Regions from separate parts of the Homo sapiens genome. Here region 1 is linked to region 2. The links come from fine-mapping of genetic effects on gene expression. A gene starts in region 2. The other region holds a variant in brackets. All regions are shown on one strand. Distances are between the middles of the regions. Region 1 overlaps ZNF322 (zinc finger protein 322). Region 2 holds the start of ABT1 (activator of basal transcription 1).

Region 1 (15,979 bases), 48 kb after region 2:
TTTCCTCAGATTGGGTTTTTTTTTTTGGGTGCAAACCCAAGTAAGGCTCTCCAACGAATGCTTTTGCCATACTTAAGACAAATATACAATTTTTCACCAGTATGGCTTCTCTGATGGGTAAGTCAGAGTTTTGTTAGAAGCTTTTTTCACACTTGCTGGGGCTTCTCCCCAGGGTGGGTTTTCTGAGGTCCAATGAGATGTTCATACTGTCTGCAGCACAACTGACACTGAAGGCATTTAAAAAGTTGTTCTCCGGTGTGAATTCTCTTACAACGAGAAGGGCTGAGCATTAGTAGAAAGCTCTCTCACACTCAGTGCATTTCTAAGGTTTCCCACTTGTATGAATCCTCTTGTGAGTGATCAAATTTGAGCTCAGACGGTAAGTTTTCAAAACCTCTGGGCATCTGTAGATTTCTCGTTGGAGTGAGGATGAAGTGTTCTGTTAGGGCAGCTCTCTGGGCAAAGAATTTCTCATATTTCCAATTGCAGGCTCTCTGGTCCCCACTGAATTCTGAGCTCTGAGCAAAGTCTGAGATTTGTCCTCATCTTAATGAGTTCTCTGATACATAAATAATTTTTAATATTGGTATTACAGCTTCTCGCCTGGTCAAGACATCTGTGAGGCTTCTGACGCATGGGGAGGGCTAAGCTCAAGACCTTTTTCACTCACATTACAGACAAACGGTTTTTCACCAATGTGTACTGTCTGATGTTGAAGAAGGGCTGAACTCTGGTGGAAGCTTTTATCACATACAGTGTATTTATAGTGTAGCTCCTCTGTTTGAGTTCTCATTTTCTGTTGGGCAACAAAGTCCATTCCTAGGAGGAAGCCACTCTCACACGCAGACCACTGATGTGGTTTCTCTTCCATGTGAATTCTCTGATGTACAATAAGATCTGAGCTACAGTTAAAGCTTTTTTCATATTCAAGGCATTTAAAAGTGTGAGTGTGAGTTGCCTGGTGCCTAATTAGGTTGGCACTCCGAGTAAAACTTCTCATACATTCCAGGCATTTATACGGCTTCTCACCTGTGTGGACTCTCTGGTGCACGATAAGGTCTGATTTCTGGCCAAAGCATTTTTCACAGGCACCACACTTATAGGGCTTCTCCCCAGTATGAACTCTTTTATGTACAATGAAGGCTGAACGGTGTCGGTAACTTTTCTCACACTTATTACATTTGTAGGGCCTTTCCCCAGTGTGAGTTCTCTGGTGGCTAATAAGATCTGATTTCCCACTAAAAGCTTTTTCACACTCGAGACACTTAAATGGTTTCTCACCTGTGTGAGTTCTTCGATGCCTTATGAGGTTTGTACTTCTACTGAAGCATTTGTCACACTCACTACATAGATATGGTTTCTCGCCAGTATGGCTTCGCTGGTGGACAAGCAGATCAGAACTCTGACCAAAATTCTTGCCACAAATGTCACATGTATAGAATTTTTTACCTGCATGTGTTCTCTGATGTCCTGAAAGCGCTAAGTGATGCCAAAAGCTCTTCTCACATTTGCTACATTTATAAGGTTTCTCGTAATTGTGGATCCTCTGGTGTGAAGTAAGATCTGAGCTTTGGACAAAGGTTTTCTCACACATATCACATTTATAAGGTTTCTCCCCAGTATGGGTTCTCTCACACATAATAAGAGCTAAGTTTTCACAGAAGTTTTGCTTGCATTCAAGGCACTGGTATATATGACCATCTATCTGAATAATCTCATGCATATGAATAAAAATCTTTTTACCCTTCCGAGGGCATACATTATATATTTTCCTTTTTTGAGTTCTCTGATTACATTTCTCTTCTGAAGTGTACATTTTCTATGGCTCTCTCCTAGGGAGTTTTCCGCTGGTCTTCTTGACCCATCGTTGCCCTCACAGTCATTTTCTTGATAAGAACTTGGAAGATACATCTGTTTCAGGCCTTTCAATCATGAGCCTCTACAAGTTTCCAGCATCATATATGTTAATTCCTTACTTGGTATTTCCAACCCTGTGAGACAAAGTAGAAATATTATTTATATTCCTATGACTAAGAAAAGAATTCTCAAAATTAAAATCACTGCAGAAAAGACAAACTCTGTATCAGAGTCCCTAAGTCTTCTAGGTTTTATATGGCTTGAAATCAGTTATTTACTTTTACTCTTTGCTAATATAAAACTGATCAGCAATACATATGGGAAACTGCAAGTAAGAACTCTTTTCTCTATGAATCTGGGTAATTTTAAACAAGAGCTCTTCATCTTTCCTTGCTTCAGTTGAGAAATCAAGACAAGACTAATAATTATTATGCCTGCTCATGAAGAAAGCAAATCAAAAGGGACAGTGAATGAGTATCTCTGGAGTCCTTTCTGCAGAAAGCTTGGAAGAAAGTAGTTAATGATCATTAGAATTCCAAGTGACCAGAGAGAAAAGTAAGGTTTCTATGACTCTAATTCGTAGTGGTGATATCAGGCAAGTTTCTTAACCACTGTATGCCTCGTTTCCTCATCTGTAAAGTGGATTAATAATAGAAACTACCTTACACGGTTCTGTGGAATATTAAATCGCTATGAATCTCCTGGTAAGCCCTCTGTTTTGGCTCTTACTATCACTGTTATTATGACAAAGGGGCTTAAGATTCTGCTTTGATATGATTATATAAGCACATAACTTGCTCAAAAAGAAAAATCCTGACTGATTATAGATACAAGTCTAGGCTTGGAACATAGATTTTATAACAGGCTTTTCTTTACATGGTGAAAAGTTGTAAAAAAAAGTTTTTTCCTCCTCATTCTGTGGTTTAGAGGTATGTACACATACAGAAACACCTAAAGGATCAAGTATCTTAAAAAAAAGTTAGGTTGATACAAGAGAGTTCAGAGGGAGTAATAAGTCAATGCATTTATCAATTACCAAAAATAGACTAAAGAACAGAAATAAAAGGAAGAAAAAAAGCCATTTTCCATATCCTTCACACTTAACTCTCTTCAGTGATCTTTTCATGTTTGACCCTCCCTCATACATTCAGACCCCTCGTCTGTCACCTAAAGAGTATAACCTGATAATTTTGCTTCCTATTTTACCAAGAAAATGGAAGCAAGCAAGCAAAACAACAACACATACACAAAAACCAAAATCCTTTCCACATGCCCCCACCACATCAACCAACCTCTTGTAAGTGTGGTCACGTACTGCATCTTTCCTTCAGCTACCAGGGATGACAAACTTCCTTGCTCAATCTAAGGATAGCCTTTCCATCTGTATACCCCCTTTGTTCACAAGGACATCACTCTAGCAATTCCACCCTCCCTCTCCTGCATTATCAATTTATTCCTTCGTATTGGACCATTCCAATATTATTTCTCTTCTCAAAAACAAAAGCACAATCAACAAGAAAAACCTCTCAACTGCCTCACACTCAGGCTGTTGTCCCATTTCTCTGTTCCTCTCCGCAGTAAAACGCTTTGAAATAAATAAACCTGCTCATTGTCTCCAATTCTGTCTTCCAAGGTTTCTGGAACATACTCCAATTAAACAATCAACCCTCACTACTCCACCAAAACTGCTTCTGTTAGAAACCTACAAGCTCTTAAGAAATCTGACTCGTAGTTACTACTCTGATCCATTTCTCTGCTCTTCCTCTACTTACTCATTGCACTCCAGTCACCCTGAGTCTTTGCTGTTGTTCAAACAAGCCAGACTCACTCCCATTTCAGGGTCTTTATCCTTGATATCTCTTCCTGGATGAAGGGCTCTTCCTCCAGGAATCTTCAAGGCTCTCTCTCTCACCTCATTCACATCTTTGCTCAACAGGCATATTCTCAGTGAAGTCATTTCCAACCACCCTATTCTAAACTGTACCACATCTCCGTCCCAGCTGACTCACAAAAACAACACTCCTCTCCTTTCCTATTTTGTTTTTCTCCATAGAATGTAAGCCCCTAAAAGACAGGGATTTTTGGCTCACTTCATTCACTATTGTTTCCCCAGCACTCAGAAAAGTGCCTGGCACAGAGTAGGCACTCAAACCTAGAAGAGGAGTTCTTACTTGGCATCCACAGACTCCCAGGTAATTTATGAAAACTTTGACTGCAAAATGTACAGTATATGTGCACTTTTCTGGGGAGAAGGTACACGGTTTCTTAAATTATCAAAAAGGTCCAGAATCCAAGAAACTAGATATTAGATTGGAGCCTATTTGTAAAGGAAATGATATTAAAGCTCACTGAATACAGCAAATTAGTAAGTGTAATGGACCAGAACACAAAGGAACATGTGCACTCAGAGAAAACAGGAAGTCAAAAGGATCCAAAACACATGGTACTAACATGGTTACCTCTGGGTAATGAGATGATACATAACATTCTGTTTCATCAATTTGTTAACAACAGTTTTCTAATTTCCATTCAGCAATTTGTATGCTTTCCTTGCGAAAGGCACAGAGGCTGCTACTTTTACTCAATTTTATTGTAGTAAGTAAAAGTTATTTATAAATATAAAAAGATATACCAAGATTTCAAATGTCAACTCAGAACTGTTCTAAAACTTAAAGGGATAGGAGAAAGAACTGAATGAGGTGGGAGTAGTGCAATTTCTTCAGAGTCAAAACACAGATCCACAAGAAATGTAGTATTGTGACCACCGCGGGACATAATGGGAGAAAAATGCACTGCAAGGCTAACAAGAATAGGGAAGTCAAAACTGAAGTAGACAAGCTAAACAAAACAGACATGTTTATGCTAAATACAGTGATTAAAATCCTACATTTCAAATATGTGGGGGAAAGAGAGATCAGACTGTTACTGTGTCTATGTAGAAAAAGGAAGACATAAGAAACTCCATTTTGATCTGTACTCAGAAAAATTCTTCTGCCTTGAGGTGCTGTTAATCTGTAACTCTAGCCCCAGCCCTGTGCTCGCAGAAACATGTGCAGTATTGACTCAAGGTTTAATGGATTTAGGGCTGTGCAGGATGTGCCTTGGTAAAAATGTGTTTGCAAGCAGTATGCTTGGTAAAAGTCATTGCTATTCTCCAGTCTCAAGTACCCAGGGACACAATGCACTGTGGAAGGCCGCAGGGACCTCTGCCCAAGAAAGCCTGGGTATTGTCCAAGATTTCCCCTCACTGAGACAGCCTGAGATATGGCCTCGTGGGAAGGGAAAGATCTTACCGTCCCCTAGCCCGACACCCGTAAAGGGTCTGTGCTGAGGAGGATTAGTGAAAGAAGAAGGCCTCTTTGCAGTTGAGATAAGAGGAAGGCATCTGTCTCCTGCTCATCCCTGGGAATGGAATGTCTCGGTGTAAAACCCGATTGTACATTCTATTTACTTGGATAGGAGAAAACCGCCTTATGGCTGGAGGTGAGACATGCTGGAGGCAATACTGCTCTTCACTGCACTGAGATGTTTGTGTAAAGTCAAACATAAATCTGGCCTATGTGCACATCCAGGCACAGCACCTTTCCTTAAACTTATTTATGACACAGAGTCCTTTGCTCACATGTTTTCCTGCTGACCCTCTCCCCACCATTACCTTATAGTCCTGCCACATCCCCCTCACCAAGATAGTGAGAGAGTGATCAATAAATACTGAGGGAACTCAGATACCAGTGCTGGTGCAGGTCCTCACTTGCTGAGCGCCGGTCCCCTGGGCCCACTTTTCTTCCTCTATATTTTGTCTCTGTCTTTGTCTCTCTTTGTCTTCTTTTCTCAGTCTCTCGTCTCCACCTTACCCACAGGACCTTGCAAGAAATACCCACAGGTGTGGAGGGGTAGGCCCCCTTCAGAAATATTTGAGCATATCTCCATGATCTATGAACTGTCCTAGAAATTACTTTTTTTTGGTCCAAATTACATCTTTCAGGTGACTTTCACGGTATCACAGAACTCCTTAGACTACAAGTCCACAGTATACTCTGTCACCGTCATAATCTCAATCCTCAAAGCCTAACGTATCACAAGCATTACTCCTATTTTCTTTTATTAAATTCAGTTTACAGAGCTAAATGGCAAGTATCTGTTTTTGCCTTATAGTCAAAGGAAGTGAGCAAAGGACTTATACTGGGGCTGGATTCCAGATCTACTCCACCTATCACCTGCCTCATCTCAGTTTATGGCAAGTTCATCCTTTATTTCCTCAGGCTAAAACCTTGAAGTCATCCTGCACTCTTCTTTCTCACACCTCACAATCAAGCCATCAGCAAATTTGTTGGCTCCATTTCAAAACACATCCAGAGTCTAACCACTTCTCACCAGCTTCTGTTGTTACATTCCAGTCCAAACCACTCTTATTTCTTACTTTCACAATAGCCCAAGAGGCCCACTTGAGCTGCCCTGCTAGCCTGTCACTGCCTCTCTGACACCCTTTTATATTATTCTTCTCTTTGCATGTTCTAATCCAGCCGCAATGGCTTCCTAGCTGTTCCTCATCCAAACATACTATCCTTAGGGCCTTTGCCCTTTCTTTCTTCTGCCTACAGCTTTCTTCCTCCAGATGTGTGTATGAATTTCTCTTAATTCCTTCAAAGACTATTTTTTCAGATGTCAATTCTGAGGAAGGCCTTTCCTAACCACTCTGTTTAAAGTTGTGAATAGTCTTCATGCCCCAGCATTCACTATTCCCCTTTTCTGCTTTACTTTTCTTCATGGCACTTAAAACCTTCTAACATACTATATAATTCACTTTATTCAGTTTATTGTCTATTGCTAAAATATGACAAGGATGTCTGTTTTATCTTTCCTTACCATATACAGTAATGCCAGGTACAAAGTTGGTGCTTAATAAGCATCTGCTGAGTACATGTATGAATTCTCATTGAAATTCTACTTCTCTCCTTGTCTGATAAAAGGACTGAATGTCACAAAGAATGGGAGGTACTCTGATGAGATGGAGTCTGGGAAAGAGAAGGGATACTTCAAAATACTGAAGTAACTGCAGCTTACCTAGAATCCAGATGGAAGAAAACATACATTCCTGATCCTGACAATTTGACTTCTCAAAGAAGATAGCATTCTGTAAAACACAAAGACAAGGATAAAAAGCCATAAATGAGAGAATTTAGCACTAGATCATTTACACTCAAAGGATTTAACAATGGGTAAACTACAGTTAAAAAGAACAGATGGGTTTTCTTATCTAATCCCTTAAATTCAATTCTGTAGAGTCTTAAATCATCCCATATGACTCTTTAGAGAAAAGGACAATACAGAATCTATAACCCATCTGCACAATCTATAGCTTCCTTTGCAACTATAACAACATTGAAGGAAAGGGCTCCTAACACTAAATCTTGGTGGTATCTTGAAAACACGAAGGCATTATCTTCCCTACAGGAACTCAGGCTGTCCTGATCCAAAGTGTAATAGGGACTACAAAGTATTTTTGGGATTATAACAAAATTACCACCTTACCACCACTGCAACCCACGTAATCATCACAATTTTGGTAATTCAAAATTTATAACACCCTAAGCTGATTTATATTTCAACCACAAACAACCCAGGAGGTGGTCAATTAGGGGCACAAAAAGAAGTTAGAGAGTCCACACTTAACCATTGATGTCTTTCTCTAGAAGTTTTAACCTGCCTTATCCTTAGGTTAATGGGACTTGCAGTTCCCTCAACAACCTTCCTGCTACTGAGGATCAGAAGCAAAAATGGAACTACTTGGACCCAGGCAACATATAGGGCCATACAGCTGAGGCTCTCTATGACACTTAGCTTATAGCTGCTAGTATTAAAATGACATGTTTTATGGCTCTAGTTCCAGGTAAGATGGAGTAAATACATGTCACAGATGTCATCCCATTGAATCCAACTATGAAGTCTGGACAGAATGTATGGCCCAGTTATTTGACAACTCCAAAAAGCACATAGCATGCAAGTCAGGAAAGAGCAGAATTTTAAATGCCATTCAACCAGCAGTGATTTTATTTCTTTTTTTTCCCCCTTTTGGTCCTCTTCAGTATGGGGCCTAAGCTCGGTGTAGCCCTAAATATAGAAGTGAGGGAAGTTGTAAAACGTAATTGTCAACTGAGACTTCTCAGAAAACCTGTAAGTTTTCACACCATTTATTTATTTATCTATTTATTTATTTATTTTTATTTTAAGTTCCAGGGTACCTGTGCGGGATGTGCAGTTTTGTTACATAGGTAAATGTGTGCCTATGTAAACATGTGCTATACCTATCAACCCATCACCTAGTTATTAAGCCCACCATGCATTAGCTATTTTTCCTGATGTTCTCCCTCCCCCCGCACCTTGCTACAGTCCCAGTGTGTGTTGTTCCCCTCCCTGTGTCTAACTGTTCACATTGTTCAGCTCCCACTTATAAGTGAGAACATGCGGTGTTTGCACACCAATTATTTAAAATTGGCCATGGAAGTCAGTGGACAGAAAACTGACTTAAATATGAAAAAAAAAAGGAAAATATCTCTAGAGGAAATATAAAGAATGTGGTAATAAAACACAGTCAGAGGGGATAACAGTGGCTACAGAAATCCAAATCTCTCAACACATCCTTTAAAAGCAGTAAGAATAAGAAGAACAAATGTACTATACAAAGCCCACACTGTCACCAAATCCCATATAGCTGTCTCTCACATTCTAGCCATAAGCTATCAAGGAGAGCAAGGACAATCTGAGAATGAGAGGTAAAGAGAAGAGAGCTAGCAGTGGGCAAGACTGACCTAAAATTCATTGCCAGAAAGAAAAACCCACTCTAAGTACAAAAAACTTTATCACAGTAAGTATGTATAGAAAAAAAAAAGCCATTTAGGGTTCAATACTATCTGCAGTTTCTGGTATACACTGGGAGTCTTGGACCATATCCCCCACAAATAAGGTGGGATTACTATATTGTATTTATGGCAGGTGAGAATTAAAGTACACTATTAAACTAAAAAACCATCTGAAGCTGAAATGGCCTTTTAGAAAAGAAAAATTTTAGAAACCCTTAAAAACCAAATAATTAAAGGTTAAATATAAAAATTTATTTTTTTAATGAACTAAAGGCATTAAAAAAGATCTAAGTATGGTCAGGTGCGGTGGCTCACGCCTGTAATCCCCGCACTTTGGGAGACCGAGGCAGGCGGATCATATGAGGTCGGGAGTTCGAGACCAGCCTGACCAACATGGAGAAACCCTGTCTCTACTAAAAATACAAAATTAGCCGGGTGTGGTGGCACATCCCTGTAATCCCAGCTACTTGGGAGGCTGAGGCAGGAGAATCACTTGAACCCAGGAGGTGGAGGTTGCGGTGAGCCAAGATCAGGCCATTGCACTCCAGCCTGGGCAACAACAGCGAAACTCCGCCTC[A/AAAAT]AAATAAATAAATAAATAAATAAATAAATAAATAAATAAATAAATCTAAGTACAAAAGTAGCTAATATAACAAAAATCAAACATTCAAAACAGAAAGTCATGAAAGAGCTATGAAAACCTATCGTAGAAAAAAAAGTAACAAAATACAGTTATAACAATATGACATTGTTAAAACCAAACATCAACTATATCAATAAATATAAATGAGCTTAACACACCTATTAAAAGAAAGAGATTTTCATTTTGGCTCACAAGCAAGACCTAACTATATGCTAAATACAAGAGACACCTAAAGCAAAGTGATTCAGGCAGGCTAAAAATAAGGAGGTGGGAAAAGGAACACTAGGCAAACAGAAACAATAAAAGTAGGGCTTTTGATCCTGATATCAGGCAAAGTAGAGTTCAAGCCAAAAGAATTAAACATAATAATACTTTCTAAATTACACTAAAGTCATGGTTATCTATGTATCACATTACACAGCAGGCACATTTACAAAGGAAAAACAGAGAAACAGATACAAAGAAACAGAGATAAAAATATTAATAATAGGAAAGCTTAATATACCACTCTCAATAAAAGACATACAAACTGGACCAAGAAGTAATGATGCAGAAGGCCTAAATAACCTAATTAATAAGTAAATCTTATTTATATTAAACCGTATGTCCTGATAAGTACACATTCTTTTTAAGAACACATGAATCATCCACAAAAATCTGTCATATATTATGTAATAAAGGAAGCATCATTATCGCAAAGAAACATTACAAGAAACAATCTGCAACAAAACTAGAAATTTATTAAAATATCAAGCGACCAAAGGTCCTTTCAAATGGGGGGAAAATAAACTGTTAAAAAACTATTCAGTAAAAGGGGCAATGAAAAAGTTAACAAAATTTTTAAGTATTCATAATTGAAAATATTATATATTACAATCTATGGGATAAATTTAAACCAGTTCATGCCTATATTTCTTTAATCAATAAAAACAGAAGAATTTAAATGAACAAGTTAAATTCTTAGATCAAAAGCTAAGAAAAAAATAAATTTCAATTGAGCCCAGGAGTTCAAGACCAGCCTGGGCAATATTAATGAGACCCAATTTCTATTTTAAATAAATAAGTAGGTATGGTAGCTCATACCTACAATCCCAGTGCTTTGGGAGGCCGAGGCAGTAGGATTGTTTGAACCCAGGAGTTCAAGACCAGCCTGGACAACATAGCAAGATCCTGTCTCTATTTTGTTTTTTAATGGGAAAAAAAATCAAAATAATAACAAAAATAGATAAAAGGAGAAATCAATGAACTAGAGAACAAAAAGACAGTAAATCTAATGATAAATCAAAATCATACTTATTTTGTAAAACTTAAAGAAACAGATAAACCACTAGGTTACTTAATTGAAAAAAAGGAAGAAAGCACACATTTACAAAATAAGAAATGACAAGGAAGAATAACCACCGAAAAGAAAAACACACATACATGAAACCACTTTGCAAATCTCTATATAAATAAATATGATTAACTATAAAATAAGGGTTTCTTTATGAAACACAATTTATTAGAGTTGACTCCATTAAAGATATAAAGTCTTAAAACACCAATTTGCAGAGAATAAATAGAAAAAGTTATAAAGGAACCATTCCATAAAAAGCACTAGGCCCAGATTATTTCACGAAATAATTCTATAAATCTACACAGACCAAATAAATACAATGCTTCATACATATTTTCCAGAGCACCGAAAATGAAGCACAACTTCCTAATTCTTTTTGTGAAATAAGGATAGCACTGGTAACTAAACCTGATGAAGAGAGCATAAAAAAATTTTAATATCCAATATCGCTTTTTTTTTTTTTTTTAAAGAGTCGGGGTCTTGCTCTGATACCCAGGCTGGAGAGCAGTGGCACAATCATAGCCCACTGTAGCCTCAAGCTCCTAGGCTCAAGCAATTCTCCTGGCTCAGCCTCCTGAATAGCTGGGGTATAGGTACACACCACCATGCCTGGCTAACATTTTTTATGAATGTGAGAAATACTAACAAAAATCAATACCACATTAAGAAAATAATATACCATGACCAAGTGGAATTTTTGCAAAATTGGTTCAAAATTAGACTATCTTTCAATATGAGGAAATCCACTAAATATAATACCCCATATGAACAGACCTATGGAGAAAAATAATATATTATCTCCATAGATAGTGAAAGAACCTGCAACAGAAATCAACATCTATTCTGGATAAAAACACTCAAGAAAGTGGAAATTAATAGATATTTCCTTTTAATATGATAAAACATACATTCCTTCATCCAGTACCTTAAGTTAGAAAAACTACAATAATTTTTACTAAGATCAGGAACAAGGCAAGTATGGCCAATACTTCTCTTTTCAATCACTGACCTGGAAGTATTAATCAATGCAATTAGAAAAATCAATTAGAGGTGTGAAAGAAGTAAAACTATCTCTATTTGGAGGTGATTTAATAGTAGAATTAGAAAACCCTACAAAGGACCAATGCTAAAACTAACTCAAATGATAAAGGAATTCAGTATGGTAGCAGGATATAAAATTTGCCACACAGAAACCACCAGTTTTTTACATAAATATAAAGAATAACTAATTGGAACACACAATGATAGAGAACAACCTTTGTATAACAGCAGCAATATAAAACTACTTAGAAATAAATAAAACATAGCCATGCCAAATAAAGCATAGGAAAACTTCTCCCTCCTGAGACCCAAAAATAGACTCGAATAAATGGAAGGACAGCCTTTGTTCTTGCATAGAACAATTCAACATTATGAAGATGTTCCCTCCTAAGATTTATAAACAATGCAATCTCAATAAAAATAACAAGCTTCTTTATGAAACTAGACTAAGGGGTGGCAAACTATGGCCCACAGGCCAATTCTGGCCTGCCACCTGTTTTTTTCAAATAAAATTTTACTGAAATAGGGTCATACTTATTCATTAATGTATTGAAAGGCAGAATTGAGTAGTCACAATAGAGACCAGATAGCCACCAAAGCCTAAATACAATACTTTCTGGCCCTTTAAAGAAAAATCTCCAATGCCTAAGCTGTACAGTTGCTACTCAAGTTCACTTTGAAAAGACCAACAAGGACAGCCATGAAGCAATGAAAAGACAGACTATGAAGGGTAACTAAACCCATGAGACATTAAAATAAACTTTAAAGCTTCTAATATTAAAACAACAGAGTTCCAAAACACAATTAGATAAAGGGACAAATAGAAAAGGAAATCCAGAAATAAACACATATAGAAATTTAGTATACAATAAAGATGACATCTCAAATCACCAGGGCAAAAATGGACTTTTTAATAAATGATGGTAAAACATCAAGGTAGCCACATGAAAATAGGTACAATTTGGTCTACACTTCATACCACACACCAATATAAACTCCCAATTGGTTAGGGTTCTAAATGTATACATGGAAATGATAAGATACTACAAGAAAACTAAAGTAAATTCTACATTAATCTTAGGGTACCAAAAATTTTCTATCTGTAAGACTGATCATTTGACTAAAAATAAAAACTTTTTTTAAAGTTTTCTTTTATATATACATACATATGTGTGTGTGTGTGTGTGTGTGTGTGTGTGTGTGTGTGTATATATATATATATATATATATATATTTTTTTTTTTTTTTTTTTGAGACTGAGTTTCGCTCTTGTTGCCCAGACTGGAGTGCAATGGCGTGATCTTGGCTCACCACAACCTCTGCCTCCTGAGTTCAAGTGATTCTCCTGCCTCAGCCTCCTGAGTAGCTGGGATTGCAGGCATGCACCACCATGCCTGGCTAATTCTGTATTTTTAGTAGAGACGGGGTCTCTCCATGTTGGTCAGGTTGATCTCGAACTCCCGACCTCAGGTGATCTGCCCGCCTCAGCCTCCCAAAGTGCTGGGATTACAGGCGTGCGCCACTGTGCCAGCCAAAAACATTTTATATATATAAAAAATGAACAAAGTCAACGGTCAATGGGCAAACTAAGAGAAAATATTTGTAACAATATTTGAGATACAGGGACAATATACCTAATATATAAAGATCTCTTAAAAATTGAGGGAAAACGACAAACATCTGATAGAAAAATAAGCAAAAGACAATTCTCACACACACAAAATATAAAAATGTCCCTTAAATATATGAGAAGCTGTTCAATCTCATAATTAGAGAAATGCAAATTAAAATAAGTGATATTACTAGGAACAAAGAGAAACTTCTTCAAGTTGATAAAGCACATCTACAAGAAAACCACTGCTAACATCATACTTAATGGTGAAAACTTAGAAGCTTTCAGCTAACATCAGGAACAAGGTAAGAATGTTCTCTCTCACCACTGCTTTTCAACATAATACTGGAATAGAGAGATAATGCTACAAGACAAGAAAAGGAAATAAAAGGTATAGAGATTAGGAAGGAAGAAATAAAACTGTCTTTGTAAGTGACATGACCATATATGTAAAAATCTGAAAAAATCATTGACAAAAAACTCCTGGGACTAGGAAGTGATTACAGTTAAGGTTGTACAATACAGGGTTAACATACAAATCAATTATTTTCCTCTATACCAGCAATGAACAAGTAAAATTTGAAATTAAAAACACAATACCATTTACATTAACACTCTAAAAAATAAAACATCTTAAGTATAAATCTAACCAAATATGTTCATAATTTATGCAAAGAAAATTTGAAAACTCTAAGAAATAAAAAAGAGAACTAAATAAATGGAGGGATATTCCACATCCATGGATAAGAAGATTCAATATTGTCAAATAGTCAGTTCTTCCCAACTTGTACTACAGATTCAACACAATCCCAGCAAATTATCTTGTGAATATTGACATACTGATACAAAGTTTATATGAAGAGGTAAAAGACCTAGATTAGCGATCATAATGCTGAAGGGCAGGAACAAAGTTGGAGGACTGATGCTACCTAACTTCAACACTTACTATACTATTTGAAGTTACAAGACTAAAGCTATAGTAATCAAGAAAGTGTGGTAATGGTGAAAAAACAGACAAATAGATAAATGGAACAGAATAGAGTCCAAAAATATACCCATATAAATAGAGTCAGCTGATCCATGATAAAGGAACAAAGGCAATAAATACAAGGCAGAAAAAGACAGTCTTTTCAACAAATGGTGCTGAAGTAACTAGACATTCACATGCAAAAAAAAAAAAAAAGAATAAAATTCTCTCATTTGCATCAACATAAATGAACTTGGAGGACATTATGTTAAGTGAAATAAGACAGACACAGAATGATGAATACCACATAACCTCACTTACATATGGAGTATAAAACAGTCTAACTGATAGAAACAGATGGTAAAATGGTGGTTACCAGAGGCTGAGACATAGCAGGGTTGGGAAGAAATTGGTCAAAGGATACAAAATTTCAGTTAAACAGGAGGAATAAGTTCTAGAGTTGTACTGTAGGTAAGTTCTAGAGTTCTACATCATGCCTAATAAAAATACATTGCATATTTGAAAATTGCTGACAGTAGATTTTATGTTCTCACCACAAGAAATGGTATGTGAGGTAATATATGTTAAATAGCTTGATTTAGCCAGTCCACAATGTATACATATATTGAGACATCATGTTCTACATCATAAATACATACATACTTACTTCTCAATTAAAAAAAATTTACAAACCCCAAATGAATCAGATACCTAAGTATAAAACACAAAACTATAAAACTTCTAGAGGATAACATAGGAGAAAATCTAGATAAACTCGGGTATAGCAATGACTTTATATTTTTGGGATGGGTCTCGCTCTGTGTCCCAGGCTGGAGTGCAGTGGTGCGATCTCAACTTACTGCAATCTCCGCCTCCCAGGATCAAGTGGTCCTCCCACCTCAGCCTCCTGAGTAGCTGGGACCACAGGCATGTGTCACTACTCCAGGCTAATTTTTTCTATTTTTGGTAGAGACATGGGTTTTACCATGTTGCCCAGGCTGGTATTGAACTCCTGAGCTCAACTGATCTGCCTACCTTGGCCTCCCATAGTGCTAGGATTATAAGCGTGAGCCACCATGCCTGTGCTGGCAATGACTTTTTAGATACAACAACAAAGGTATGATCCATGGAGGAAAATTGATAAGCTGGACTTTAAAATTAAAAATGTCTGCTCTATGAAATAAACTGTCTAGAGAATGAGAAGACAAGCCACAGACTGGGAGAAAATATTTGCAGAAGACACATCTGATTAAAGACTGTTATTCCAAACATTTAAAAATCTCCAAAATATACAAAAATATACATATACCCTTAAAACTCAACAAGAAAACAAACCAGTTTAAAAAAACTGGCAAGTCAAGCCAGGCATGGTGGCTCATGCCTGCAATCCCAGCACTTTGGGAGGCTGAGGCGGGTGGATCACCTGAAGTGAGGAGTTCGAGATCAGCCTGGCCAACATAGTGAAACCCCTTCTCTACTAAAAATACAAAAAATTAGCTGAGCCTGGTAGCAGGAGCCTGTAATTCCAGCTACTAGGGAGGCTGAAGAAGGAGAATCACTTGAACCTGGGAGGCAGAGGTTGCAGTGAGCTGAGATCGCACCATTGCACTCCAGCCTGGGCAACAAGAGTGAAACTCCGTCTCAAAAAAAAAAAAAAAATTGTAGATAC
Region 2 (15,979 bases):
GTTGTTGTTGTTGTTGAGACAAGAGTTTTGCTCTGTCACCCAGGCTAGAGTGCAGTGGCGCGATCTTGGCTCACTGCAGTCTCTGCCTCCCGGGTTCAAGCGATCCTCCTGCCTCAGCCTCCCAAGTAGCTAGGGTTACAGGCTCCCGCTACCGCGTCCGGTTAATTTTTGTATTTTTAATAAAGACGGTGTTTCACCATGTTGGCCAGGCTGGTATCGAATTCCCGATCTCAGGTGATCCGCTCTCCTTAGCCTTCCGAAGTATTGGGATTACAGGCGTGAGCCACACCGCCCAGTCAATGATTGACTTTCTTTATATAACATAATGCTTTAAGATTTATCAATGTGGTGGCCTTTTTGGAGGCCGAGGCAGGCGGATCACCCGAGGTCAGGAGTTGGAGGCCGGCCTGCCCAACGTGGCGAAACCCCCTCTCTACTAAAAATACAAAAAATTAGCCGGGCGTGGTGGCGGGCACCTGTAATCCCAGCTACTCGGGAGGCTGAGGCAGGAGAATCGCTTGAACCCGGGAGGCAGAGGTTGCAGTGAGCCGAGATTGCGCCACTACACTCCAGCCTGGGTGATAAGAGCGAAATTCTGTCTTAAAAAAAAAAATTATCAATGTGGCATATATTAGTAGTTAATTCCTTTTATTGCTGAGCAGTATTCCATTATGTGGATTTACTACAACTTATCCATTCACCAGCTGATAGATACTTGGATGTTTCTAGTTTTTGGCAGTTATGCATAAAGCTACTATAAATATTCATGTAGTGTTATGGCAAATATATGTATAACTTCATTTTTAAAAACTGACAGTGTTTTTCAAGGTGGACCAGTTTGTATTCCCACCAGCAATATATAAGAATTTCAGTTATTTCACATCATCATCGGCGCTCGGCACTGTTAATTTCTCACCTTTTTTTTTTTTAACTTCAGCTATTCTCTTAGGTGTGTAAAGTATCTCATTGTGGCTTTAATTTGCATCTGCCTAATGAATAGTGATGTTACATATCTTATTATGCTTATTGGCCATCAGTACAGCTTCTTTTGTAAAATATCTGTCCAAATCATTTGTCCATTTAAAAAAGGGTATTGTCTGGTCTTATTATTGAGTTGCAAGAGTATGTTATTGTTCTGGTTATAAGTCCTGCATCAGGGAAGTGTTTTCCAAGTATCTTTTTCTAAACTGTGACTTTTTTTTTTTTTTTTTTTTTGGTAGAGAGGGGATTTCGCTGTGTTACCCAGGCTGATCTTGAACTCCTGGACTCAAGCAATCTGCCGGCCTCAGCCTTCCAAAGTGCTGGGATTACAGGCTTGAGCTACCATGCCTGGCCTGACTTGTCTTTTCTTAACAGTATCTTTTGAAGCGCAGATTTTTTGTTAAACTTTGATGAAATTCAACTTATTTTTTCCTTTATGGTTTATGCTTTTGTGTCCCATTTAAAATCTTTTTGCTTAACCTAAAGTCACAAAGAGTTCCTTCTACGTTTTCTTCTAGAGGTTTTGTTGTTCTAGTCCTTGCATTTAAGTCTTTGATTAATTTTGAATTAATGTTTGTACATTGTGTGATATAAGGGTCTAAGTTCACTTATTAGCACATGGATATTCAGGTTTTTTAGCATCATTTTGCAAAGATTATCGTTTTCCTGTAGAATTACCTTGGCACCTCTGTCAAAAATCAATTAATCATAATCATGTAAGTTTATCTCTAGACTCTATGTAGCTTTGTTGTAAGTCTTGAAATCAGGTAGTGTTCTTCCAACTTTGTTCTTCAAAATTAGTTTGGATATTTTGCATCTTTTGACTGTCTGTATACATTTTATACATTTTATATTTGGCTTGCCAATTTCTAAAAAAAATCATTGAGATTTTGATAGTCATGGCATTAAATGTATCAGTCAATTTGAAAGATGTGGAATTGATATCTGAAAATTGTTTAAATTTTCTGTTCTGGAAACAATGCATTGCTTTCATTGCATCTTGGTAAATTTATCTCTAAATGTTTCATATTTTTTATACTATTTCAAATGGTATTTTGTATTTCAATTTCTAACTATTTATTGTTAACAAATACAATCTATTAATAAATAGAATTACAATTTATTATATTTGTGTCCTGCAGTTTTGGTAAGCTTACTCATTAGTTGTAGTAGCTTTGTAGAAGTTTCCTCAGTATTTTCTCGTAGACAATAATGTTACATGCAAATAAAGATAGTCTCACTTTTTCCTTTTAATCTGTATTTTTTTCTTTCTCTTGTGTTATTGCACTGGCTAGAATCTCTAGGATAATGCTGAATAGAAGTTGTGAGAGTGGACATCCTTGCTCTGGACCTGATGTTAGGGCCAAAACATTTGAGTTTTTCATCACTAAATATATTAGCTGTTGAATTCTTAAATATGTCTTTTATACTTTGCAGAAATTCTAACAAATGTATCTGAATTTTGTCAATTGCTTTTTTCTACACCTACTGGAATAATCATATGGCTTTTCCTGTTTAGTCTGATAATAAAGTAATTACACTGATTACATTGATTTCAAAATTAAATTCTAAGCTACACTTTTCTTTTCTTCTTTAATTCTTTGAAAGTTACTCTTCCCATTTTTTAGATTAAGGTACAATTCACATACAGTAATGTCATCAGTTTTAATGTACATTCTCCTTAGTGTAGCAAATTTTGTCAAATATAGACAGTCGTGTTATCACCATTACAATCAAGATATGGAATAATAATATCACTCTACCCCCAAATTTCTGCATGTTTCTTCTTCTTTTCCTCCTCCTTCTTCTTCTTCTCCTTCTCCTTCTTCTTCTTCTTTTTTTTTTTTTTTTAATAGACAGGGTCATGCTCTGTTACCCAGGCTGGAGTGCAGTTCTTCCATCATAGCTTACTGCAGGCTGGAACTCCTGGGCTCAAGCCATTACAGGCATGACACCAGGCCTAGCCTCCCAGGAGGAAAGAAGAAAGAAGTTGTTTCTTCTTCTTCTTTCTTCCTTCTTTCTTTCTCCTCCTCTTCCTCCTCCTCCTCTCCTTCTCCTTCTTCTTCCTCTTCTTCTTTTTCTATTTTGTTCTTACTGAATCACTATGTTTCTTTTATACTTAATTTCTCCCCTATCTTCTACCCCAGTAGCAACTAAGGATATTTTCTGTCCCTATAGCTTTGCCCTTGCAAGAATTTCATAGGAATAATATAGTATGTAGCATTTTGTATCTGGCTTTGTAAATTCAGCATAATGCAGATGAGTTTCATCCCTGTTGTTACGTTTACCAATAGTTTGTTCCTTTTTATTCCATAGGAATATTATAGTGGTCTGTAAGCTTCAAGAGAAGTTAAAACCATCTAGGTAGGACTCAATTCGCAAGTTGAAAAGGTGCTAAAACAATAGAGAAGCTACAGGGTGAGATTGTAATCAAGTGATGATGATACATTTCCAAGAATTATTTCAGATAGTTAGATTTAGCCATAAACCCATTTTGAACTTGTGTCTGCAACAAGAGGGAATAAATAGAATGGCCGTTCTGACACCAGATTCTGTAAGAAGAGGAAGAAGGAAGTCTTCCCTCAAAGTGATACAGAAATCTAGTGCGGAAAGGTACTAATTACTTGTTCTTGTATTCCCAGGAGGCAAATATTGGGGATTATCAGGGGAAAGAGCATTTCAGGCAAATGAAATTCCAACTTTAACAGCCCTGAGGTGTGATTCTTATGCTAAGATTAGTTTATAGGTAAAGAAAATAATTGATGAGATTAGCTATTGGAGTTCTTCCTGATCAAAATCAACTCTATAGTACCGTGTCACTGAGAGTCAGGAGGCTCTGGGAGCTCCTGAGCATAGCAGTAACTGATGAGAAACATACTGAGCATTTTTTTCTGTATGTTTGCTGCCCCCTGTGAAAATTAGTGAAGCTTTTATTCGAGAAAGCATGTGAACTGAGATCCTGGGGTTTGGTGGTGAAATGGCAGGGTTGGTCAACTGCTTTCACATCTGGTGTCCAAGGCTCAGTTAGTACACTTCATATGGGCAGAGACCATCTCATAAGAATCTGCTCATTTCTCTTCTCTGGCTTCTCGTATTTTCCCCGACTAGGTTACATTATTGGAAAGGAATTTACCAGACCATATATTCTTAGTTTCTCATGGCAATGAATTGAATAACTGAATTAAATATTAGTTATGTTGCTGCAGATATTTCTCATGGGAAACGCTGGAGAGGATCTTTTGAAAAAAAAAACCGTATTTTTGTCAAGATTACAATTATGGAGAACTTTAACTGTAATAAGTGATGATCTTTTATAAATAAATTCACCAACACTCCTTTCCATAAATTTCACAATTTATAATTTCCATATACTTCTAATAATTTTATAAAAAAGAAAAGTCTCTCCAGATGCCTTCCCGTTCTTCCCATTGGTGTTCATTTCTGTTTTAGGCACGAGGAAGCTGAATACCATGATAGGTACTTATTAGCAAAGCATGACAGCATACCTTTGTGAAAACTGTCAGAATCAAAATGGAGTCACTATTGTTAAAACACACAAACACACAAAACAAACTAAAAACGCTAATTAATAGAGCTGGAAAAGGCCATGCTTGATAACAAAAACTATCACAAAAGACTGCAAAAACCACAATCTTGCACAGGCCATCACAATCTTACACAAAAAATACTTCTACAAGGACATCTGCCCCACAACTGCCTGTCCAACCTCGGACTAGCTTCCTCTTTGCTATCCATTTTTGTAGCAGACAATAATTACCTCAACACAGTTATATAATCCTTCTCATTTTTTCCCTTACAAATCTTTGTCGCTGAGCTCGGTGGCTCACGCCTGTAATCCCAGCACTTTATATTCTGGATCATGAGGTCAGGTGGGCGGATCATGAGGTCAGGAGTTCGAGACCAGCCTGGCCAATATGGTGAAACCCCGTCTCTACTAAAAATACAACAATTAGCCGGGCGTGGTGGCGGGCATCTGTAATTCCAGCTACTCCGGGAGGCTGAGGCAGGAGAATTGCTTGAACCCGGAAGGCGGAGGTTGCAGTGAGCCGAGATTGCGCCATTGCACTCCAGCCTGGGCGACAGAGCCAGACTCCAACTCAAAAACAAACAAACAAACACCTTTGTCTTCCTTTACCTCCCTGAATATACATAGTTTCCTATGGCACTCGTATTTTCATTGCAATGCTCTATTCCCAAATAAACATCATTTTCTTTCAGAGAGCTTCTCTTTGTTATTTAGGTTGACACCTGTAAATAGAATGCTATATTTCTTTTTTAAATTGTAGGGGGAGAGAGAAGTGTTGTGTTTCATTTACTTGTCCCATTACAATTGTGCAATATCATATGAGCCGCTCAATTCCTAAACATATGTACACACACAACGCACTTCTGTTTTGTGTCTCGAACACAAATTACAAATTATACAAATTGTGTAATTTTCCTTGCCCTTCAGAAAGGAGAATCTCAATGTTTCCGAAATGAACTGGGCAGTAACTTCGCTTCAAGGCGGTAGGTCCCCCCTCTTCAACCCAGTTGTCTAAAATAACCTTGTCTTTATTATTTACTTCCTATAGAGAGAGGAGGTGCTAAGCGGACAGGACAGCTGGACAACACGCGCAATAAGGGCAATGGTCCTATCTATTCTAAGGGAGGAGGACATGGAATATTGGTGTGGTTTTGTTTATTTTTTATTTTTTTGGACCTATGTGAAACATTTTTACAGTAAAACCCACAAATTTTAAATGTTCAAGAGAATTGTTCATATACTTGTATAGTCAGTATCCCTACTCAGATAAGAACATTTTAGAACATTTTGGAACATTTCTAATATCCTAGAAAATTTCCTCACGTTTCCCTATATTTTCAAAATGAACAAGAATACAGGATAGTCAAAAGCAATAGGTAAATCCTAAAGAATCCAAAACGAGGGTAATGACATCCTTCGATAGCTCAGCTGGTAGAGCGGAGGACTGTAGGGGTTTGAATGTGGTCATCCTTAGGTCGCTGGTTCGAATCCGGCTCGGAGGAGTTCCATTTTTAAAAGTGTCTCTTCTGGGCCTGAAATAAGGAAACTTGGAGAACGCATGTGCAGCTTGCTTATTCAGGAATTTGTAAGACGCTCAGAGAAGGAAAATAATCCACCCTGAAAATTGCTAACAAGGGTTGCTTCACAGACAGTTGAGTGGGACTCGATTTTCACCAAGTTGAGAAGGGATCATGAGGAATGTGGGGAACGGGAAGAACACGCTGCCCCAAGGCTTCATTTTTTTTTTTTTGTCGGTTTCACGGTCCTTTAGCACCCCCTGTTATATTGATACTTGGTGTGAATAAACATTTTATTAATGATAATTTCAAATATATACAAAGTAGAGAAAATAGCTAATAGCTACCATTAGCCACCACACTGGCACAACTTACCGACACTCTTGCATCCATCATGCCCCTCCCCTAGCTCCAGATCTTTTAAAGCCACCCCAACACGTGTTCTCATTTCATTAACTGTACTGTGTTTTGAAGATGTCAGTGTTTATAATTAAATAGCAGTAGACGGAGTTTATCGCTCTCATCGTACCCCGCTCCTCTTCAAAAAAGGAGCAGTGGACACCTACCTGACAGAAAGTTCTCTTCAATAAAGTTAATGAAACAGGCGTGTTTGAATTCGAGAAGTCTATTATTAGACTTTTAGACACTCCATGAAAGAGTGCAGGGCCCTGTTACTTTAGAAATATACTTGGGGACTGGCAAAAACTGTCATCTCTGATTTTAATAGTGGACACATTTACTCCCTGCTTCCATTCTCTGGGCTACTCTGCGCTCTTGGAGCGAGATGGGAAATTTTGTCAGGCCGCAGCAAGGACGGATTTATGTTGATAGTCATCAAACTCGCCCCGGGCTGCTTCCAGAAAGCTAACCGGATTACTTGTACGCGGTTCCCAGCACTGTCCTTTGCAGTCAGCTTGTCGCTGGCGCCGATGGGAAGAACTGAAACGCCTCAAGGGTGGGGACGGCGCCCCCTGCTGGTCGCGCCCTCGGGCGACGATAAGAGACTGAGGACCCGAGCCCGCGCGGGGAAAACTGCCCTGAGCTTGGCTTAGGGATGGTCCGCAGGCCGCCTGGTGGGAGCAGGACCGCCGTGGCCCGGTCCGTTCTGCGGTTGCGTAGGTCATAGAAGGAAAAGTGGTTTGTGATCTGATAGGGAATCTGAGGACAGACCCAGGGAGAGCAGAAATAAGCGCGCCGCCGGGGGGTCGCCAGAATTGGAGGCTTGTGCGCCTCTGACAAGTATTTGCAACATAAGTATGCATATGGATAATGTATCAATACACACGTGTAATAGATGCCAAACAAATTCTTCAAATAATTGTCACACATTTAAATTTTCAGACATTCACAAAATCAAATGTAAAATATTAAACTGAAAGTTCACAACTTAAATTTTCAAAAATTAAATCTAATTAAATTTCCAAAGTTGAACTGTTTTCAAAATTAAATTTTAAAATATTCAAAATTCCGAGGTAAATTTCCAGAAATAGTTAAAACCTCAAAACTCAAAATTTTTAAATGAAATTTATAAACTTTAAAAGGTGAGTCATTCCTCAGCTGGAATCGCACCCGGGGCCCTTGAATAAAATGCTATTTTGATCGCTAGAACACATAGAAACTTCTCTAAAATTGTTCTGCAAAATTCCCTAAAAAGCCGGCATCAACCCGCCTTTTAGCGTCTCGACAAGGCGTTCTATAGGGTAGGTTATATTTGGGGATCTGCCTTTTCTGGTTCTGCCTGTCCTGAGTTGGAGATCTGACCGGGAATCTGAGCCTAACCCAAGTTTCCCATCCCGCTTCCACGCTCTGAATCAGGCTTCCGACCTGACACACCACTTCCTCCCTCTCCCCTCGGCCTTCCCCTGGACCCGACTGTATTGCCCAATCATTTCCTTTCATTTGTCATCACCACCTTGGACCCGCCCCCTCGTCTCAGGCCGTCGCACGCGTTTTGCGTCAGTTGGCAAGGCACTTTACGGCCGTCGTGCCGCTCGTGTCAGTCAACATGGAGGCAGAGGAATCGGAGAAGGCCGCAACGGAGCAAGAGCCGCTGGAAGGGACAGAACAGACACTAGATGCGGAGGAGGAGCAGGAGGAATCCGAAGAAGCGGCCTGTGGCAGCAAGAAACGGGTAGTGCCAGGTATTGTGTACCTGGGCCATATCCCGCCGCGCTTCCGGCCCCTGCACGTCCGCAACCTTCTCAGCGCCTATGGCGAGGTCGGACGCGTCTTCTTTCAGGCTGAGGGTAAGTATGCAGGCCCTGACGGTGACAGGAGGAGGTTGTCGCTCGCTGGCGGGGTGCAAGCATGCATGTCCTGTTGCTTCGCTGCGCGAGGCTGAGGCACGAGTTGCTGGATTTTGGGGGTGGGGAGTGCGGTGCTTGGCTCCTGGCTGGTGAATCAGTCTGTGAGGATGCTGGGGTGGGCGGGCGGAGGGGATATGGGGAGAGTGGGTAGCGCAGTGTGTCTGGTGGTTCTTTAGTTCTCGGATTGTTACTATTTGTGTTCTTATCCCGGCTCTGTTCACCTCTCTTTCCGGACCTGTTTACTGGTTTGTTACATGAATACAACCTGAGTAAAAGTCTCGTCAGCTTTTCTACAAAACTGAACATAACTCTTTAGCATTGCTGCCTAGGTCAAGAAACTATTTGATCAACCGCCCCTCTTCTTTCCACCCTCAATTTTACATTGAGGCTGAGGACTTGTGCCGGTTTTAAGCAGCGTTCAGGGCTGGCCAGATTAAGGAGTGGACAATTAAGGAAAGAATTGAGTTAGCTAGAGGAAAGGGTGCGATTTACAGTTCCCTTCCTCCTGGGCAAAAACTCTTCAGGTGGGACTCCCACTGGCAGATGTGAAGAACGTTGCGGGCAGTGGGAGGTGCTTTTGAGTGAGTGCTGCATAGGCGTCCTGGACGGGTCTTTGTCTTTGGCGCGCAGACCGGTTCGTGAGACGCAAGAAGAAGGCAGCAGCAGCTGCCGGAGGAAAAAAGCGGTCCTACACCAAGGACTACACCGAGGGATGGGTGGAGTTCCGTGACAAGCGCATAGCCAAGCGCGTGGCGGCCAGTCTACACAACACGCCTATGGGTGCCCGCAGGCGCAGCCCCTTCCGTTATGATCTTTGGAACCTCAAGGTGAGAAGATAGATCTTTCTGCCACACCTCTCACCCTCCCTTCTCCCCAACTCTGGCCCAAGTATCCCCATGGCCTCTCATTGGCCTTGTCCCCTTGTCTCATCTTTCTCCCTAATCTGCACTATCCTGATCTTTTCTTCTTTTCTGCCCACAGTACTTGCACCGTTTCACCTGGTCCCACCTCAGCGAGCACCTCGCCTTTGAGCGCCAGGTGCGCAGGCAGCGCTTGAGAGCGGAGGTTGCTCAAGCCAAGCGTGAGACCGACTTCTATCTTCAAAGTGTGGAACGGGGACAACGCTTTCTTGCGGCCGATGGGGACCCTGCTCGCCCAGATGGCTCCTGGACATTTGCCCAGCGTCCTACTGAGCAGGAACTGAGGGCCCGTAAAGCAGCACGGCCAGGGGGACGTGAACGGGCTCGCCTGGCAACTGCCCAGGACAAGGCCCGCTCCAACAAAGGGCTCCTGGCCAGGATCTTTGGAGCCCCGCCACCCTCAGAGAGCATGGAGGGACCTTCCCTTGTCAGGGACTCCTGAGGGCCTGGGTGGCCCCTTCCATTTCCTGGCCCTGCTCTGCTTCCTGTCTACCTCATACTAGAATGATCGTGACTACCCGGGCAGACATTTTACTGTGTTTCTCAGACCAAGTGTCTACTGATGGCCCAAACATGGAGTTTTGTGGGCTTCCACTGTCCCCACTCCGAACTCCTGTATGTGCCTGGCTGAGTCACCTAATTCATACTGTCATACTAGCATAATTATGACTATTGCATATGCTTGTTTTGTTTGACTCTTGGCTGCCTACGTCTGTAGGGTCCCCTGAAAATCCCACTTCCTGCCCCCAGAAAGGGCCTTTATTTCCAACTAGGAGGATAATGCCTAGTCCAGGCAATCTTTCTCTGTTTAGCAGTCACAGGTGAGGGTGGTATTAGCATCTTTTTTATGTAGAAAAAATTGAGTTAATGGGGTGGACTGGGTTGGGAAGAAATACATTTCCTAATGTATTTATAGAAAATAAAAATATTTTTATGTGCCTTTTTATTTTTGTTGGTGGGGAGGTCATTGGACAAGTTCCAACTTTCATCTTGTGTTCCCTTCACCTTCATATCCTGATCTTAGAGCCCCCCTCCCCCTGCCACCCACCTTACTGTTTAACCTGGATTTTTTTTTCTATTTAATTTTTGTCTAATATCTTAGCCCAGTTTATCAATCAGTTATCTTAAGTCAGCATTTTCTAAGCCATTGTTTGAGGAAACAGTGACAATAGGTAATAACACATCTTAGTATTAAGAGTTTTACAGGCCACTAGTATAAGATAGGCATCGTGGTAGATGCATATAAAGGGTGGAATGGGAGCCATGGCAGGTCATAGAGTCCTCTCAATGGGAACCTGATTGATGATCACAGTCTTCAGTGGTGAGTCAGTCCTCACCAAGTTTTCCAGATCATTCCTACAAAGTAAACTGGGAGAATAATAAGTCTGAAAGAGTGTGGAGTGCTCCCACAATTACAAAGAATGCTTCCTGGGTGGAGTGTTGAGTTGGAACCATTGTAAAGGTGGGCAAAGCCTAGTAGAGAACCAGTGCACCTCAGGTGCACTTACATATGGTGGGGCTGAGGCAAAGCAGCCCTGTAGGCTTCAAAGAATCAGTGTAAGCCACTAAAAGGAACTGAAAACCTAGGTGTCACAATAAACAGTCTACACAGTCTCACGTAGACCAAAATTCTGATCATTTTCCAGGCTGTTGCATGAAGTGATAGAGTATGATTATAATTTCTGTTTGCTTGTGCTGTTTGTTTTTGTTTTTCATCTGTCAATGTGATGATCTGTGTTTTATAGGGTAGAGTGGATTTGTCTACTTTGGCTGTAAAATACCCTAATCACATTATGATCTTGACAGGTGCACTTTACTGGGGAGAATAAAAAGGACCATACGGTAAAGCTGGTATAACATTTCTCACAACCCACATACCTCTTATACTTGGCACACAAACTACGTTTCCATTTAGAAACTTTCGTCTTGTTTCTGTTTTTAATTCTTGTGGGTTTGTTTCATGTGAATTGTTTCCTCAGATCATTGATGTCTTAAAGTGAAACAGAAAAATCCAGAATCAGAATTTGACAGGCTGGCATATTCATTTATTCAGAATTCCAAGTGCCCATTGCTACTTCTGCTAGATAAAGAGATACCAAGGTGAAGAAGAAACTTTCCCTCTAGTTGCTAACAGCTTAGAAAGTACAGTAGACATACTGGGGTTTTATTTAAGACTTTCTTGAATGAAGAAATAAATTGCATTCCCACGGTGGACAGCGTTAGATAACAGTATGTTCAAGGGCTGGTATTTCAGGGTCCATCTCCAAAACAGTTCTGTACAAAGAGCTCACACCTGCGGCCAGGCAAGCTAAGTAAGTCACAGGTGGAGTGAGGAATGAGAATAAATGGGTGGAAGAAAATATCCTAGGAACTTTCATCTTGACTTTAAGCCCATTGAGTGTAGGAAAATAATTTTTTACATCCACAATTTTGTTTCTATTTAAACAGCACTTGTTTTTTTATATGAAGTAACTCATTTAATCCACAACTATATAATATTGTTATCCCCCCATTAAAACTGAGCTCAGAGAGATGACTCAATTTGCCTCTTAATATTTTATCCTTTGTTCCTCACCTTTTCCCCAGCTTTTCCCAGTGTGCATATGGTGAATGCTTATTACAGGAAATTCATGAGAAATGCACATGTTATAGACTAGAGAATGAAGTGTACCTGCCAATATGAGTGGATTTATTTTATCTAGCACCAAGAGTAGCAAACTGAGTAATAATTCTCAGTCATGATCCTGTGGTTGTAGTGTATACTCTGATTCAACTTAGTTTCACTCCTGACTGAGAAGCTGGGACTCTGCATTTGATGGCAATGGAGTGGGCTGATTTCTTTCCAAATAAGTTGAGGTGGGACTCCTGGTAGAGTAAGAGGGCTTTAATAGGGTATGTCTGGGTGCCTAAAAGCTTTCTCTCTCTTTTTTTTTTTCAGAGACAGGGTCTCTCTATGTTGCTCAGGCTGGCCTTGAGCTCCTGGGCTCAAGCGATCCTCCCGCCTCAGCCTCCCAAAGTACTGGGATTACAGGCATGAGCCACCACGCCCTGCCCTAAAAATGTTCAAAAGTCGTATTTACAGCTACTCTCAAATTCCTTTTTTTTTGTGATTCCTTATAAAACCTTTCTCCCTGCATTTATCTTGTTATATTACAGTAGAATTATGAGGGGAAAATCCTTTGGTGGAAGTCTAGGGACATGCTCAGTTCCCAGGAGGCTTAATGTGAATTTTAGTGAATTGCTTAAGATCCAGTATTAGATCTGCTGGTCCCTGCCCACCCCCCTTTTATTTTTTGAGACAGGGTCTCACTTTGTCACCCAGGCTGGAGTGTAGTGGCATGATCCTGTCTCACTGTAGCCTCCATCTTCTGGGCTCAAGCAATCCTCCCACCTCAGTTTCCTGAGTAGCTGGGACCGCAGGCATGCACCATCACGCCCAGCTAATTTTTAAAATATTTTTTGTAGAGATGAGGTCTCACTGTGTTGCCCAGGCTGCTCTCGAACTCCCGTTCTCAAGCGATCCACCCACCTTGGCCTCCCAAAGTGCTGAGATTACAGCCACGGTGCTCGGCTCCCATCTTGAAATCAATACCTGACAGAATATTAAAGAAAATGAAAATTGGCCGGGTGTGGTGGCTGACGCCTGTAATCCCAACACTTTGGGAGGCCAAGCCTAGTGGATCACTTGAGGTCAGGAGTTCGAGACCAGCCTGGGCAACACGGTGAAACCCTGTCTCTACTAAAAATACAAAAATTAGCCGGGTGTAATGGCGGGCCCCTGTAATGCCAGCTACGCAAGAGGCTGAGGCAGGAGAATCGCTGCTTGAACCCGGGAGGCGGAGGTTGCAGTGAGCCGAGATTGAAAATGAAAAATTTTCTATCTTCTGTTACCAGGGCCCTTGAAACCACACTTTTTTCGCACCCCTTGTTAACTGGAGACACGAAGGCGGGCGGAGGGGAGAGGCCATCGGAAACCTGGCAATGTCTTTTGCAGCTGCATGGTGTGTGCCCAGCCACCTTCAGCAGTTATTGTGGCCAGTCTGTGGCTGACCTGGGCTATCAGGGTTAGCGCACTCCAGTGAGCTCCCCCAGCACATTGCCTGCAAATGAATTCAGAGAACTTCTTTTTGTTTTTCACCTTTGCCTCCAATTCCATTGTGTCAATTATCATTGATTATTTAATCAGGACTTTATGGTTGGACGTGCAGCTTCTTCTAATCTTTTTTTCTTTTAAGTGTTTAAAAGAATAATGCTGACATGAGTCAATTTTAGTTGTACAAATACAGCTATTGTGTAAAAATTGTCAGAAGCGGAATTGCAGAGTCTAAGAGAGACCATCTTTGGTATTTATTTTGTTAGCAAGAAAAAAATTGAGAGTCTGATAATTTAGGAAAATACCAGTCACAGGAAAATACCAGTCACAGGAATACAGGTGGAAACCTAGCTAGAGGTCTCCACCCCTTTTATTCGTGCTCTATTGTGACGTCCAAAGCCTGACCCAAGGAACTGATTCAGGTAGAGGCGACGCCAGCTCAGTGTAGGGGGCAAGCTCTGCAAGACCTTGGCCGAGTGACTTCTGCTGCTTTTTGCTGTGGGGACTCTACTGGATGGACCAGCACATGAGAGAGATGGAGTTTGGAAACAAAACAAGTGGTTCAGAAACATGGGATTGCTTTCATATCTACTGGCATTTAGAAGGAGCTTGGTAAATTTAATCAAGAAACAAGGAAATGAAAATACCCAAGGAACACCAGGGGAAGAATAATGGTTGGATTTTCATTTAATTTGCCAGACACAATCCCTGAAGTAAGAAAATACCGTTTCTCATGAAATTCCGGCACCCGAGGCTCAAACGGCCAACCCTACGGTTAACAGCCGAACGCGCTAACCAATTGTGCCACAGAAATGAATGTGGTGGAATATCTCCATTCCAACAAGGTTATTTTACTTTTTTTCAGTCTAAACAATACATTAGAAAGGAGGCTACTTCTCCGTGTATTGGAAAAATGTTTTCCCTTTTTTTGACTCTCATTGTTGCTATGTTAATGTGTTTTAAAAACGGAGGTTTATAGGCTTGCCGCCGTGGCTCACACTGTAATCCCAGCACTGTGGGAGGCCGAGGCGGGCGGATCACGAAGTCAGGAGTTCCAGATCAGCCTGGCCAACATGGTGAAACCCATCTCTACTAAAAATACAAAAATTAACCGGGCGTGATGGCGGGCGCCTGTAATCCCAGCTAGTTGGGAGGCTGAGGCAGGAGAATTGCTTGAACCCAGGAAGCAGAGGTTGCAGTAGGCCGAGATCGCGCCACTGCACTCCAGCGTGGGTGGCAGAGCAAGACTCCGTTTCAAACAACAACAACAACAACAACAACAACAAAACACAGAGGTTTGTAATAATACAGATATTATTCTTAGGAACATAAGAGTGTTAATTGGGTGGAGAGCAGGACGCGGGACTGGTGCGTTTTGCAAAATAAGTATGAGTAGAATCAAAGGAAAGAATTTATTTTCGGTTCAATAAGGAAGTTTTCACTGATAGTTCAGTTGAGAGAGAAACCACTGGAAGGCTGTTGCATAGAAGGAAATATATTAAATGAGAAAGACACCAGCAAGAGCAGAGGGGAAAACCATTTAATGGAAAATCTGATACAAATATTAAGGGAAAGTAAGGGGCCAAACACCAGGACATGAAACCAGAAACTCCTATACATTAGTGCTTGTCCACCAAACTGCGAGCCTGAAATTGCGATCATACTTTATATTTGTGTTTTAAAGAGTAAGTTGGTGACAGATTTTATTTCTTTTCTGCCTGTCTTCCTGCTTCCTCTTTTTCTTTCTGCCTTCCTCTCATTCTCCAGTATGTATACCTTCTAATCATTTTCTTCTGGGTTTTATTCTGAATATTAGGATTTTCTAAATTTGTTCCTGTTTTTCTCATTTTCTTAAGCATATGTGGGTTGACCTTTGAAGTACGATGATGGGTAGGGGGTGGGTGGATGTTGTGATATTCACTACCCTATTTGTCTTTCTAGTCCTTTCAGTGACATTTAAGCCCAAGAGTCAGGTTACATTAGGATGATGTCCTCAACTTGAACTGTTGACTCTTGGATGTCCTCTATTCGTTTAGTCTCCCAACTAACAGTTATTGAGTGTCTGCTAAAAGCTAGGCACAGTTCTAGGCATTCGGATACATCAACAGTACACAGCAGAGACTAGGGTGGATTTTTCAAGCTGGGGAGAAACACATAATAAACACAAATAAGTAATTGTATCTATTTGAAGGTAATAAGTTCTATGGAGCAAAGAAAAAGTCAAGCAGGGTAAGGGGACCAGGGAGTGGGAGGTATGTGGTTTGCAATATTAAACAGGCAAGTTAGGGTGGCCTCTTTGTTTATGATATTTTGGAATGGCTTATTGGAGTTTTGATATATCCATCTTTGTCTTTAAAAGATGTCTCTCTGAGAACCTAGGCTGAAACAGACAAAAGAAACTGGATAGATCTTTCAACAGCAATTATGGGGAGTTTTGAGAGGAGGTGCTCCCTGGGATTGGATGAAGATACCAGTTAGGAAGGATGTAAATGTCTATTATTTAGGAATAGACAAACCTCATAATCTATTTTACGACCAAGAATTCTGTATTTGCCATTTTCAGAGATTTGGGTTGGTGGCTCAATGTAGAATGCCCTTTTCTACGGATCACTATA

Evidence for each region. PIP is the estimated chance that this variant, and not a neighbour inherited with it, causes the effect.
Region 1: its variant is fine-mapped to the expression of ABT1 in whole blood (INTERVAL, PIP above 0.99).

The regions. Positions count from the first base shown.
Region 1 is chr6:26,636,738-26,652,716 of GRCh38, forward strand. ZNF322 (zinc finger protein 322) reads right to left here. Exons shown (of 4, transcript NM_024639.5): 3 at 6,922-6,991; 4 at 1-1,991. The coding sequence starts at 1,816. The coding sequence ends at 608. Among named protein-coding and RNA genes, the nearest start is that of ZNF322, 15 kb to the right of the region's middle. The variant A/AAAAT (reference allele first, on the strand shown) is at 9,295.
Region 2 is chr6:26,588,933-26,604,911 of GRCh38, forward strand. ABT1 (activator of basal transcription 1) reads left to right here and starts at 8,021. Exons shown (of 3, transcript NM_013375.4): 1 at 8,021-8,291; 2 at 8,982-9,178; 3 at 9,333-11,807. The coding sequence starts at 8,051. The coding sequence ends at 9,713. TRY-GTA6-1 (tRNA-Tyr (anticodon GTA) 6-1) reads left to right here and starts at 5,942; the gene lies at 5,942-6,030. It overlaps LOC105374989 (a long non-coding RNA gene), which reads left to right and starts at 13,801. Exons shown (of 2, transcript NR_187833.1): 1 at 13,801-14,659; 2 at 15,724-15,979. RefSeq lists a cis regulatory region at 3,880-3,984, a silencer at 4,649-4,943 and enhancers at 6,903-7,052, 7,153-7,312, 7,870-8,309.